Homo sapiens: one gene and its partners. The protein of the gene in region 3 interacts with the protein of the main gene of each other region in a pairwise test. Each region holds a gene or a part of one and is shown on either strand. Other genes may lie near its edges.

Evidence for each region.
Region 1: the proteins of TRIM50 (region 3) and ZNF438 interact in binary tests that used the Homo sapiens proteins (3 or more experiments, as listed by UniProt).
Region 2: the proteins of TRIM50 (region 3) and NOD2 interact in a two-hybrid assay, tested with the Homo sapiens proteins (one study listed by IntAct).

Annotation. Positions count from the first base shown.
Region 1 is NC_000010.11:30,878,320-30,882,786, forward strand, and holds part of ZNF438 (zinc finger protein 438), read right to left. Parts: intron 1-4,467. UniProt on the Homo sapiens protein: Isoform 1 acts as a transcriptional repressor.
Region 2 is NC_000016.10:50,709,685-50,714,151, reverse strand, and holds part of NOD2 (nucleotide-binding oligomerization domain-containing protein 2), read right to left. Parts: intron 4,209-4,467; coding exon of another isoform or gene 4,136-4,208; intron 3,595-4,135; coding exon 1,779-3,594; coding exon of another isoform or gene 1,778-1,778; exon of another isoform or gene 1,515-1,777; intron 1,400-1,514; coding exon of another isoform or gene 1,399-1,399; exon of another isoform or gene 563-1,398; intron 1-562. UniProt on the Homo sapiens protein: Pattern recognition receptor (PRR) that detects bacterial peptidoglycan fragments and other danger signals and plays an important role in gastrointestinal immunity.
Region 3 is NC_000007.14:73,313,326-73,318,082, forward strand, and holds part of TRIM50 (E3 ubiquitin-protein ligase TRIM50), read right to left. Parts: intron 3,365-4,757; coding exon 3,240-3,364; intron 345-3,239; coding exon of another isoform or gene 304-344; exon of another isoform or gene 186-303; coding exon 1-185. UniProt on the Homo sapiens protein: E3 ubiquitin-protein ligase that ubiquitinates Beclin-1/BECN1 in a 'Lys-63'-dependent manner enhancing its binding to ULK1. In turn, promotes starvation-induced autophagy activation.

The DNA.
Region 1 (4,467 bases), on a different chromosome or scaffold from region 3:
TGACTGGAGAGAAGCAACTTGACTTCAGAGGGACAGCTGGACTTCAGAGGAAAGATAGCTTAACTTCAGAGGGACGCTCTGACTTCAGGGAAGATTACCTGACCATCCCATCCCCCTTTCCAGCTCCTCTCTCCACTGAGAGACATCCATCGCTAAATAAAATTATCTGCCTCCACCATCCTTCAAGTGTCAGCATGACCTCGTTCTTCTTGGACACCACACAAGGGCTTGGGACCCACTGGATGCAGGTACCCAAAAAAGGCTGTCACACTAGCCCTTTGCCCTTGCTGGTGGAGTGTAGACACCCCACATGACAAGACAAGGGGCCCACTGAGCTGATAACACTGCTGTCCATAAACGGTAAAGCTAAGCTAAGAGGGCATTGTAGCATGCCCTCTGGGATTCTGGGGATCACAGGCACTCCCACCTGGGCACCGCCACAGGGTGTGCATGGAGCTTGCTCCTGCCGGCACCCAAAGCAGCCAGCCTGAACCCACTCGCTTGCTCACGTGCTCCCTCCTGCAAGGGGTTGAGTGTGGCAGGCTGAGTAAACAGGGCACCCCCATTGCAAATCTGACAAAGGGGTCGAGAAAAATCCTGCATCATCAGGTCAAGAAAAACTGATCCCCGAGAGCCAGGAAACAATTGCAATGAGCCCTATTGAAACAACTGCGATGAGCTCTATGTGAGGACAGATCCTTGCAGAGATTTCCAGAATACTGGAAAAGAGAGCTACACACAGACACAGCACAACAGAGAGGGTCCTCGCTGGGTTATTTACCTTTGTAATGATCAGCACAGGCAAGTGAGGAAACACCCCAAGACCAGGGAAAGGTCCAAGGTACACTACAGTCACAGAAGAACGGGAATATTGCCTGTTCCCATTAGCTAGGGTAAAAAAACTCATAATCCACAAAGGAATGGGTAGAGTACACAGAAGGGTCTTGCCTTAGTAGGGGGGAATACTTAATTCTAAACTGTGCATTTCTCTGGTTTCACGTAAATCTTAAAGCAAGACATGAAAGAATCAAACTGTTTCAAACTATTTTAACTATGTACCAGAAAAAATCACAAAATATTTATAGAAATACAAAAATATCTACCACCCAATAAAGTAAAATTCATAATGACTGACATCTAATAAAAATTATCAAGCATGCAGAAACGCAGAAAAATATGATCCATAATTTAGAAAACAATCAAAACTGAGCAGGACTGACATATATTAGAATTAGCAGACAAGGACATTAAGTGTGTAACTAGATTTCATGTGCTCAAAATGTTAAGTACAGGTAGAAAAGACATGAAAAAATTCAAATAAAATTTCTAGAGATAAAAACTATAATGTATAAGATGAAAAATATACTGCATGAAATTAATGGCACATTAGACACGTCAGAAGAAAATATTAGCAAATCTGAAGGCACAGCTATTGAGACTACACAGAATGGAGAAGACAGTAAAATTAAAAAAACAAAAAACAAAAATCAGAATTGAGAGCATCAGTGAGCTGCAGGCCAACTTTAAGAAGATTAACATACCAGTATTTGAAGAGGGGAGAGATGGAAGGGCAAAAAAATTATTTTAAGAAAGAATGGCAGAACATTTTCCAAATTTGATGAAGCTGTGAACACACAGATCCAAACATCTCAAAACACTGATTCACGAGAAACATGAAAACATATTAAGGTATATCATTGCCAAACTGCTCAAAACTGGTGAAAAAAAAAAGTTTTTAAAGCACCCAGAGAAAAAGACACATTGCATATAAAGGAACAATGATAAGGATAACAACAGATTTCTTACTATTAATAAAATGATGCAAGTCTGGCTGGACGCGGAGGCTCACACCTGGAATCCCAGCACTTTGGGAGACCAAGGCGGGCAGATCACCTCAGGTTGGGAGTTTGAGACCAGCCTGACCAACATGGAGAAACCCTGTCTCTACTAAAAATACAAAAATTAGCTGGGCATGGTGGTGCATGCCTGTAATTCCAGGTACTCGGGAGGCTGAGGCAGGAGAATCGCTTGAACCCAGGAGGCGGAGGCTGCAGTGAGCCGAGATTGTGCTATTGCACTCCAGCCTGGGCAACAAGAGCAAAATTCTATCTAAAAAAAAAAAAAAAAAGAAAAAGAAAAAAACAAAAACAAAAATAATGCAAGTCTGAAGACAATAAACAATAATAACAACTGTAATCTAGAATTCTTAGACCTCTAGGCCCTGATGTCTTCTCTGGTGACTTCTACTGAATATTTAAGGAGGAAATTATACCAATTATATATAAATCCTTCCAGAAAATTGAAAAGGAGGAAATGTTTACTATCTAAAAAGGCCGGATTATCTAGATATCAAAACCAGACAAATCCAGACATAGAAAAGATTCCTATGTCCCAATATCCCTCATAAGCACAGATGCAAAAGTAATAAACAAACTACTAGTAAATCAAATCCAACAATATGAGAATACGTCATGACCAAGTAGAGATATCCAGGAATACACAACTGGTTTAACATTCAAAATAAATGCAATTTACCATCTTAATGTTATAAAAGAAAACTACATGATTATTTAAACAGACACAAAAATTGTATGTGATAAAATCCAACATCCATTACTGATTAAAAAAAAACAACCCTTTATAAATTAAGAATAGAAAGGAACTCCTCACTCTGGTGAAACACATCTTATGAGAAACCTAAAGCTAAAATCATGCTAAATAATGAAAGACTGAATGCTTTCCCTCCAAGTTCACAAACAAGAGAAGGATATCTATTCTCACCACTTCTATTCAACCCTGTATTGGAAGTTCTAGCCAGTGCAATAGAGCAAAAATAAATAAAATGTATTCAGATTGTGAAGCAAGACTTAAAATGGTCTTTATCTGCAGATGACATGATTGTCTAATTAGAAAATTCAATAGAATCTACAAAAAAAGCTCTTCTAATAACTGAGTTTAGCAAGGTTACACAATACAAAATCAATATGCAAAAATAAATTATATTTTTGTATCCTAGAAATAATCAGAAATTGAGACAATAAATCAGAAATTGAGACACCATTTATAACAGCATAAAAATGAAATAATTAAGGATAAGCCTGGCAAAGTATGTGAAAGACCTATACACTGAAAACTAAAAAACACTCATAGAGAGAAATTTTAAAAGATCTAAACAAATGAAGAGATATATACCACATTCAAAGGTTGGAAGACTCGATGTTGTTAAAATGGCAATTCTCTTCAAATAAATATATAAATTCAATGTGATCCTAATCAAAATCCCAGTAGACTTTTTGTAGAAATTAACCAATTTAATTTTTAAAATTCACATGAAAATAGAGCTCAGAATAATCAAAATTTTCTTAAAAAAGAAGAAAGAAATCAGACTAATGCTACTTTAGTTTCAAGAAAGAGATATATAGATCAATGCAACAAAATAGAGAGTCCATAAATAAATCTACACAGATATGTATTTTCATGAGAGTCCAAAGGGAAAGCTGTGGAACATGAATAGTCCCTTCAACAAAGGATGATGCTTTCTCTGTATGCAAAAAACAAAAAAGAACTTTGAGCCACACCTCACACCATATACAAAATTTGAAATGCATCATATACCCAAATGTAAAACACAAAACTTCTGAAATATAAAACTTCTAAAAGAAAATACTGTGCCCTTTAGTCAGGCAAAGGTATCTTGGACATGGCATCTGAAACATAATCCATAAAATAACAAACTAATATGCTAAACTTCATCAAAATTGCAAAATTCTGCTCTTCAAAAGATATCAATAAGACAATGAAAAGACGAGCCATAAATGGGAGAAACTATTTGAAAATAATCTGATAAAGAAATTGTATATAAAAACTCTCAAAACTAAATAAGAAAACAAATCTCCCAATTTACAATGGGCTAAAGAGGTGAACATACACTTCTCCAAAAAAGATAACTGGCCTGCAAATAAGAACATAAGAAGATGTTCAACATCACTGGTTATTAAGAAAAGATACACCTGCCTTAGGATCCAGCTAATCCCTTCCTACCAACCCAAGAGAAACAAAAGCAAATGTCTATACAAAAACTTGTACAAAGAATGTTCACAGCAGCTATATTTGTAGTAGTTCCAAGCCAGAAACAACCCAAATGTTCACCAACAGATGGAATATATAAACATACAATGGAACATTACTCAGCATTTTAAAGGAACTGTTGACCTACATCACAATAGAAATGAAGAAACATGATGCTATACGAAAGAAGATAGACATTAAAGAGCAATACTCTATGATTCTACTTGCATAAGATTTTAGAGACTATAAACTATAGTGGCAGAAAGCAGATCAATGGTTGCCTGGGGACAGGGGAGACAGAGAAGGTTGGGGGGACAGACTCTATAAGCAGACCTGAGAAACAACATATACCCATCCATCGAGGTGAAGAATATATTCATTATCTTGATTATGATTAAG
Region 2 (4,467 bases), on a different chromosome or scaffold from region 3:
GGCCTATGAGGATCACACAGGCCAGTGATGCCTGGCCTCTTGGGGTAAAAACTGAGTCTACTACCCAGGAAAATGCACATTCTTATTTCTATCAGGGAAATTGCTCCAACAGACAGGTTTCCAAATTCCCACTCAAAGTATCATGATCCTCCCTCCTAGGGAAATAGAGTTTGGTGCTGGCTGTTTTCCATTTGCCTGGCCAGATCCACTCTCCCCCTTCTCTACCCGTCCCTGGCTCCTGGGAGGCTGATGCCTGGGGACTACTCCAGCAGACAGCCCACTCGGCCTCCCTGATGGGTCCAGCTGGTGGAAGGCGCTGGCCAGGAGCAAGAGTTGGGGTGAGGAGTTAGGGCCAAGCGGTATTCTTCCACTTTGCAGAAGCTCAGGCAGCCGTCTCCATACCTTCCCCCCAGCTAATTAGTCTCCCTCCCCTTCCCCCTTCAAGTCTACCCTCCCCCAGCTGTTACTAACCCCAGGCCCCTGCACCAACCCTCTCACTCTTCCTAACTCCTGCCCATGGCTTGTAAACAATCTGTTTTTCAAACTCTCCTCAAAACACCCATTTTAAGTGTGTCATCTGTTTCCTCCAAGACCATGATGGGTATAATCATATTTACATTCATTGCATATAATACATATATATATTCGCTATATATGTTATGTATTATGTTGTTATTATGCTTTAACCTAAAGACCATGGTCCCTATGTCAGGGTTAACAAAATTCACTACACAGTTTCTAGTGGGTATCCATGTGTTTGGTCCATGATGAAAAATAAATCTTGTTGCTTTGCCCCCAGAGAAGATGTATACCATCCTAATACTCTCAGGAAGTGGTTTGTCCCATGCTTAGGGTCAATTAAGGTCATCCAGGTGTAGCCCAAAGCCCCTGGAGGCTGGGAATCAATTTTAACTTCAATCTAGAACTTCTGCTTTCCTATAGGTTCTAAATAGAAGCAGGGCAATCCCCTTTCAAGCTGGAAGGATGTTGGGGAATCTGTCGCATGCTGATCCGCAGGCCTAGGCACACCCTCTGCCCTTGCCTGCCCCCAAGATGTGGAAAGAGGCCCCCGAGTTCAGGGGCACAGATTCTCCAAAGGGCAAAACCTCACATCTTTGGCTGGGGCTCTAAGCAATACGGGTAGTGCTGAAATCCTGTTTGGACACTGTGCTACCTCAGGAATCCAACAGTAGTTGTAACCCTGCAGCCACTTTCTATTTCTTGGGTCCTGAAATTCCCATCTGGTTGGGGTGTTAAAGTCTCTGATGGGGCACAAGTCACCTCTGATTTGGTGTTGTTCCTGATACGGACACATACTACACAAAACTTTCTGCAAGTGACCTCAAGGTTTTCAGGGAGCCTCTGAAGTGTATCCATAGACTGGTGGGAGGCAGAAAACCTGTAATCAGAATGATGCAATTTGTGAACCCCAGCTCTGCCATTTCCTGGACAAGTTACTTCACTTCTCTGAGCCTCAAGTCAAGGATAATGGAGATAATAACATTCCTGCCTACCCGCCAGGGTGGTTGTAGAGATTAGATGAGGTCATTCCGGAAAGCATAGCACCAGACCCAGCACATAGGCCAGTCAATAAAGTGTGGCTGTCATCATCACATATTGAAATTAAGGCCCAGAAGGGAAGGGATCTGGGCAGTGTTGCAAAGCAGGGTGGCAGAGGCGAAGCTGGGCCCAGACTTCTAGAGCCCAGCTCGGTGCTCCCACACTTAGCCTTGATGGTGCTCCCCCATACCTGAACAGCAATGCCCAGTAACACTCACTACAGAGCCTTGCAGACACCAAGGCAAGGCAGCAGCTGCTCCACGCCAATGTCACCCACAGAGTTGTAGTCCAGCTGCAGGGCCACGGGCCGCCGGAGGTGCTGCAGCACAAAGGCCAGGGCAGCACACTCAGTGGGGCCCACACTGCAAAATGTCAACTTGAGGTGCCCAACATTCAGGCCACGTGCAGCCTTCCGAGCCAGCCGCTCCTCCTGCATCTCGTACAGGCTCCGGATGAGCCAGATGAACCCGGGCATGGCATGCACGCTCTTGGCCTCACCCGGTGCAGCTGGCGGGATGGAGTGGAAGTGCTTGCGGAGGCTGCGGGCCAGACACCAGCGGGCACAGGCCTGGCGCCGGAGCAGGGCCTTCTCAGATGTCTGGCACTCAGCCAGCAGGCCCCAGTGCTCCCGGGACAACAGCCCTGCCAGGAAGGCTGCTGTGATCTGAAGGTTGTGCGGCTCGGCCTTCTGCAGCAAAGCTGCCACGCTGCTGTCCTTTCCCTCCGAGGCCTGGATGCACATCGTGGGCAGGAGCCTGGCCATTGGTGAGTTGCCTGGCCTGCCACAATTGAAGAGGTGTCTGAGCAAAGCTGGTGGCACATCAGCACTGAGTGCCAGGTAGAACGCGGCAAAGAAGCACTGGAAAGTGATGTGAAGGAATTCCAGGGGCGCCGTACTCCCTGGCACGACACCTTTGGCACGCACCAGGAAGCCAAGAGAAATGTCATCAGGGCTGACCTGTGCTGCCTGGAGCTGCTGGGCTGAGAACACGTAGCAGCACATGCCCAGGCCCCACAGAGCCAGTCTGCCCAGGTGCAGGAGGGTGGGGAGGCGGCCCCGAAGAAGACTGGGTCCCAGACCTTGGGAAGCTGAGTCTGGGGGGGTGGCATGCAGCAGAAAATGCTGCAGAATCAGCAGGTACATATCTGTAGTGGTCTTTGGGGACCCCCCCTCCTGCAGCAACAGTTCCTGGTGGCATTTGGACACCATCCATGAGAAGACAGGCAGGTGGCACAAACCGTGCAGGGCTGAGGTCTCTTGGAGCAGGCGGATGAGGCGGTCCGCCACCCCGGGCTCATGATGGCGCTTCCTCAGGTACAGCTCGATGCCCTGTTCAGAGAAGCCCTTGAGGTTGAACTCGGTGCGGATGTACTTCCTGAGGAACGCCGACACAGCGGCCGGACGGCTGGTCACCACCTTGCGGGCATTCTTCAGCAGGTTGCCCTGCAGAAGGTTGAAGAGCAGGGTCTGGACAGAGGTGGGGTCGGTCGGGGAGCAGTGGCGTTCACGATCCGTGAACCTGAACTTGAACTCGTCAAAGCCATCAAAGGTTAACAGGACACGGTCAGGGTGGTCAAGGAGTAACTGGAAGATGTCTTCTTGACCAACATCAGGCCAACAGCAGTGCTCAAAGAGTAGAGTCCGCACAGAGAGTGGTTTGGCCATGCACTGCAGCTGCCGGCAGCTGAATGGGAAGACAAAGAGAAATTCCTGGAAGTCTTGCCCTGCAGCCCACAGCAAGTGCAGCCGCTGCAGGAGCGTGCTCTTGCCACTGCCCGCCTCACCCACCACCAGCACAGTGTCCGCATCGTCATTGAGGTGGCCAGGGGTGCTGAAGAGCTCCTCCAGGCCCAGGGTGGCTGGGCTCTTCTGCGGGGGTCCAGCCATGCCCACATCTGCCCAGACCTCCAGGACATTCTCTGTGTATATGTCCTCCAGGCAGAGCGTCTCTGCTCCATCATAGGTACTGAGGAAGCGAGACTGAGCAGACACCGTGGTCCTCAGCTTGGCCATATACTTCTTGCATGTGGCAGCTGGAAGGCAGAAGAAGAGGCAGATGAAGGTGGCACCATGGTGAAGACGGGACCTAACCAGACAATGGGCTGCTGCGGGGGACGCTGACATAACTGAAGGGATAGGAGAGCCAGCGGGCGCCCATCCTGGCTCCTCCATTCACAAGCTGTGCACTTTGAGGACAGTCAAGGAAACTTCCTAACCCTCAGTTTCCACCTCTGTAAGGTGGGAGAAATGTTGGTCACTACCTCACAGAGTTTTACACGGATCAACTAAGATGACCTATGTCAAGTGCTTAGCACAGTGTAAGTGCTCAACACAAAGTAAGTGCTCAAAAGACATCAGTGACTGCCGTTATCATTACTGACACCAGGAGGAGTTCTAGATGACGGGAAGGGGCTCTGGGCTGGGATCGGAAGACCTGTATTCTGATATCTGTCCTGCCATAGTGGCCGGGTGGCTTTGGATAAATCCCTTCACCACTCAGCCTCAGGTGACTTTTTCTAAAGGGGAACAAAGGGCTTAAGGGCTCAGGAGCCCAGTCTCTGAAGCCAGACACACCTGAGTTTGAAAACCTGGGTCCACCATACACTTGGGCAAGCCATTTAGCCTTTCTGGGCCTCAGTTCTCTCATCTGTAAAAATGGGGACAATATACACCTGGAAGGATTTTTTCAGGAGGCAGCGAGATAAAATACAGTTTAAAAGAATATCTGACATGGCAAACTCTCAAAAAATGGTGCTTATTATCATTATTATTCATGGATATAGTAGGCACAACAATAGACCCTCAAAGATGTCCATGTCCGGATTCTCAGAACCTGTGAATATGTTACCTTACGTGGCAAAAGGAACTCTGAGATGTGATAAAGTTAAACTTCGAGATGGGGAGAT
Region 3 (4,757 bases):
CACCTCCCAGTAGTGGCGGCCGCAGGAGAAGCCGCGGCTGGCCAGGACGCAGGTGCTGTAGTCGAAGCGCTCAGGCTGGCTGGCTCGCCGCTGGGCCAGAAGCCCGCACTGCACCACCGTGTTGCCCTTGGAGAGCTCCAGGAGTGGGTGGGCAGTGGCAGGGTCCAACTTGAGAGGCTCCGGGGCTGGGAGGGAGATCACAGAGGGTCTGTGAGGCCACGTGGAGGGCAGCAGACCCGGCCCACAGAAGCTGATGGAGGCCCTGAACTCCCCAAGGAGAGGGGCTGTGTCTTCCTCATCTCTCTAGCCCCAGGGTCTAGAAGGGGCCAGTACAGGGCTGCTCCCTGAATGAATGAATGAATGAATGAATGAATGAATGAATGAAGTTTTACATAAGGAAGATCAATCACAGACTGATTGCATCCACCCAAGGCAAAAACAGTGTTTATATAAAAGGGAGCAGCTTGGTGGGCTGTGGGGGGCTGAGGTGGCTGGAGAAAGAAATGGACACTGGGCTCGGGGTTCTGGCCTGCCTGCCTGACACAGAGGTGTTGTGGGAAGGACCCGGAAGACACCTGTCCTGTGAGCCTATAGCTCAGCCCTCAGGGATTTCTGGAGAACCCATAACAACTGCAGCTGTTGGATTTGCTAGCCTAGTCAGCCTATTCAAGGACGAACTAGCCCACCTGAGCTTTTTGCTAGTTACCAGCTGATCCGTTTACCCCAGAAATGTGAGATGTGCTCCCCCCTGCCCGCCTCCCACCCCTTCCCGCCACCCAAGTTGCCGCAAGGAAAGAAGGCCAAGGGGAAGAAGGTGGCTCCGGCCCCTGCTGGCGTGAAGAAGCAGGAGGCCAAGAAAGTGGTTTATCCCGTTTGAGAAAAGGCCTAAGACTTTTGGCACTGGACAGGACTTCCAGGCCAAAACGGACCTCGCCCACTTTGTGCAATGGTCCTGCTCGGTCAGGGTGCAGTGGCGGACAGCCATCCTCTATAAGTAGCAGAAACTGTCTCCTGCTATTAACCAGTTCACCCAGGCCCTGGACCGCCAAACAGCTATTCAGCTGCTTAAGCTGGCCCAGAAGTACAGACCAGGGGCAAAGCAAGAGAAGAAGCAGAGACTGTTGGCCCTGACTGAGAAGAAAGCTGCCAGCAAAGGGGATGTCCCCACTAAGAGGCCACCTGTCCTTGGAGCAGGAATTAACACCGTCACCACCTTGATGGAGAACAAGAACGCTCAGCTGGGCCAGGCACAGTGGCTCATGCCTGTCATCTCAGCACTTTGGGAGGCTGAGACAGGCAGATCACTTGAGGCCAGGAGTTTGCAAGCAGCCTGGCCAACATAATGAAAAACCCCGTCTCTACTAAAATACAAAAATTAGCCGGGCGTGGTGGCACACGCCTATAGTCCCAACTACTCAGGAGGCTGAGGCAGAAGAATCACTTGTACCCAGGAGCCAGAGGTTGCAGTGAGCTGAGATCACACCACTGCACTCCAGCCTGGGTGACAGAGACTCTGTCTCAAAAAAAAAAAAAAAAAAAGGAAGGCTCAGCTGGTGGTGACTCCACGCAACATGGGTCCCATCAAGCTGGCTGTCTTCCTGCCTGTGCCTGTGTGTAAAGTGGGGTCCCTGACTGCATCATCAAGGGGAAGGCAAGACTGGGATGTCTAGTCCCCAGGAAGACCTGCACCACTGTCGCCTTCACACAGGTTAACTTGGAAGACAAAGGAGCTTGGGCTAAGCTGGTGGAAGCTACCAGGACCAATTACAACAACAAATGTGATGAGATCCGCCATCACTGGGGAGGCAGTGTCCTGGGTCCCAAGTCTGTGGCTCACATTGCCAAGCTCAAAAAGGCAAAGACTAAAGAAACTACCACTAAACTGGGTAAAACGTACACTGTTGAGTTTTCTGTACATGAAAATAATACAAATTTTCCTTCAAAAAAAAAAAAAGAAATGTGAGATGTACAAACAGGATTCACAGTTCACAAACTGCAATTTTTTTCCTTCTTATCTTTCCTTTTTTTTTTTTTTCATTCTTTTCTTTTTTACTGATGAGGTCTCCTCTGTCACCCAGGCTGGAGTGCAGTGGTGCAATCATAGCTCACTGCAGCCTCCCAACTCCTGGGCTCAAGCAATCCTCCTGCCTCAGCCTCCTCAGTAGCTGGGCCCACAGGCACATAACACCACACCCCACTAATTATTTTTTGTAGAGATGGCGTCTCACTATGTTACCCAGGCTGGTTTTGAACTCCTGGCCTCAAGCAGTCCTCCCACCTTGGCCTCCCAAGGTGCTGGGATTGCAGGCGTGAGCCGCCGTGCCCAGCCCCTTCTTTTATATAAACCCTATTTTTGCTTTTGGTGGATGAAATCGCTCTGTTAGCAGTCTCCCTTATGTACAAGACAGCATGCTAGTAATAAAGGAATGAAATGTGTTTGAGTTGTTTTTGACAGAGAACAAGAATAGGTTGGTTCAAAAGTAATTGCGGTTTTTGCCATTACTTTGAAGACCACTTGTCCTTTGAGTAGGAAGGACATTTTTAAAAGGATATTACTTTTTTTTTTTTTTTTGAGACGGAGTTTTGCTCTTGTTGCCCAGGCTGGAGTGCAATGGCACGATATCAACTCACTGCAACCTCCACCTCCCTGGTTCAAGTGATTCTCCTGCTTCAGGCTCCTGAGTAGCTGGGATTACAGGCGCACACTACCACGCCCAGCTAATTCTTGTATTATTAGTAGAGACGGGGTTTCACCATGTTGGCCAAGCTGGACTTGAACTCCTGACCTCAGAAGATCCGCCCTCCTCAGCCTCCCAAAATGCTGGGATTACAGGCATGAGCCACTGTGCCCAGACAAAAAGTACATTACTTTTAAAAGTAATGGCAAAAACTGCAATTACTTTTGCACCAACCTAATACCATTTATGAAGCACTAAGCTGCAACACACGTATGTCTATATACAAGCTCTGCAGCCTGGCCGGGTGGGTGCAAATAGCCCCACTTTACAGATGAGGAACCTGGGCTCAGAAATGACACAACTTGCCCAGCCAGCAGCTAGGAAAGGAAAGAGTAAGCAGGAACCCAAGCTGTTCGGAAACTCAGTCCCATGCTCTCACTAGGACCCTCCACAAACCTCCATCTGAGTTCTCTGTAGCTTATTATCTCTCTGATACAATCGATGAACTGCCACCTGCCCTGGGCGGCAGCCCTCAGGAAGGAGGACGGGTCAGGGCCTCACCTGGCAAAACTTTCCGGAAGAGCCTTTTCCACACGGTCAGCTTGATGTCAGCCTGGTGGAGGCCTGGCTTGAAGGAGATGGGGCTGAATGCGCCTTCTAAGGGCCGGGCCTGCGGCATCTCTGCTCTGCAGGTGACAGTTCACAGTACAAGAGAGTGAGGTATCACGTGGCCCACCCCACCCCTCCATCCTATCTATGTTTGCCCAGCCAGATCCACAGTGCAGGACTGCAGTCACAATGCCCATCAATGCCCATCATCCCCTCCCCTGCACAGCCCCTTCAGGGAGGACCCATCTCCTTCCTAGAAGGGGAAACGCTCTATAGTGGTGCTTCTAGAGTGCAGGTTTGGGGACCAGCAGTGTTGGTTGGAAAATGGTCCAACCCATTCCCAGTAGAAAGTCAATGGTCCACCTGGGAAATGGTCAGAAATGCAGGTTCTTAGACCCCACACCAGACCTGCCAATCAGAAACCAATTATGGGGGCCAAGTAATGTGTCTTTTTTTTTTGAGTCAGAGTTTCACTCTGTCACCCAGGCTGGAGTGCAGTGGCATGATTTCGACTCAGTGCAGCCTCAACCCCCTGGGCTCAAGTGATCCTCCCACCTCAGCCTACCTAGCAGCTGGGACTATAAGCATGTGCCACCATGCCCAGCTAATTTTTTTCTATTTTTGGTAGAGACAGTTTCACCATGTTGCCCAGGCTGGTCTTGAGCTCCTGAGCTCAAGCAATCCACCCACCTTGGCCTCCCAAAGTGCTGGGATTACAGCTATGAGCCACCATGCCAAGACTTTTTTTTTTTTTTTTTTTTTTGAGATGGAGTCTTGCTCTGTCGCCCAGGCTGGAGTGCAGTGGGGTGATCTTAGCTCGGTGAAACCTCTACCTCCCAGGTTCAAGTGATTCTCATGCCTCAGCCTCCCCAGCAGCTGTGATTACAGGTGCCTGCCACCACACCCAGCTAATTTTTGTATTTTTCATAGAGACGGGGTTTCACCATGTTGGCTGGGCTGGTCTCGAACTCCTGACCTGAAGGCATCCTTCTGCCTCAGCCTTCCAAAATGCTGGGATTACAGGTGTAAGCCGCCATGCCCAGCCTCTGTCCCTTCATTTAAACCCATGTCTTCTGACCAAATTGTCTCTAAGACTAAAAGAAATGTGAGAAACACGGAGTCTCCCATAAACAGGGAGTGAGGAAGGCTTGGGAACTGCACGTGTTCGTTTGTTGGGTCTAGAACATGGATCCACTCTCTTCCCACAATCTGCAGAGCAAGTTTCAGGCAGGGCTGATACTGCCTGCTGCGCAAGGGTGAGGAGGGTAAGCAAGGGATGCCCGGTGCTCCTGGATGTTGCTTCTGGCCATTTCCCACCTCTCCCAGCTCCGACTCCTGGTGATATCCTGCCTTACACCCAGCCACCCTGAACTCATAACCAGAGTCCACATGCCACTCCCCCTTTTACAGGACCGTTTCCTCGGCTTGCCTGGCAAACTCAGGTCCTGGGTCCTTCTCAGCCATCAGGCC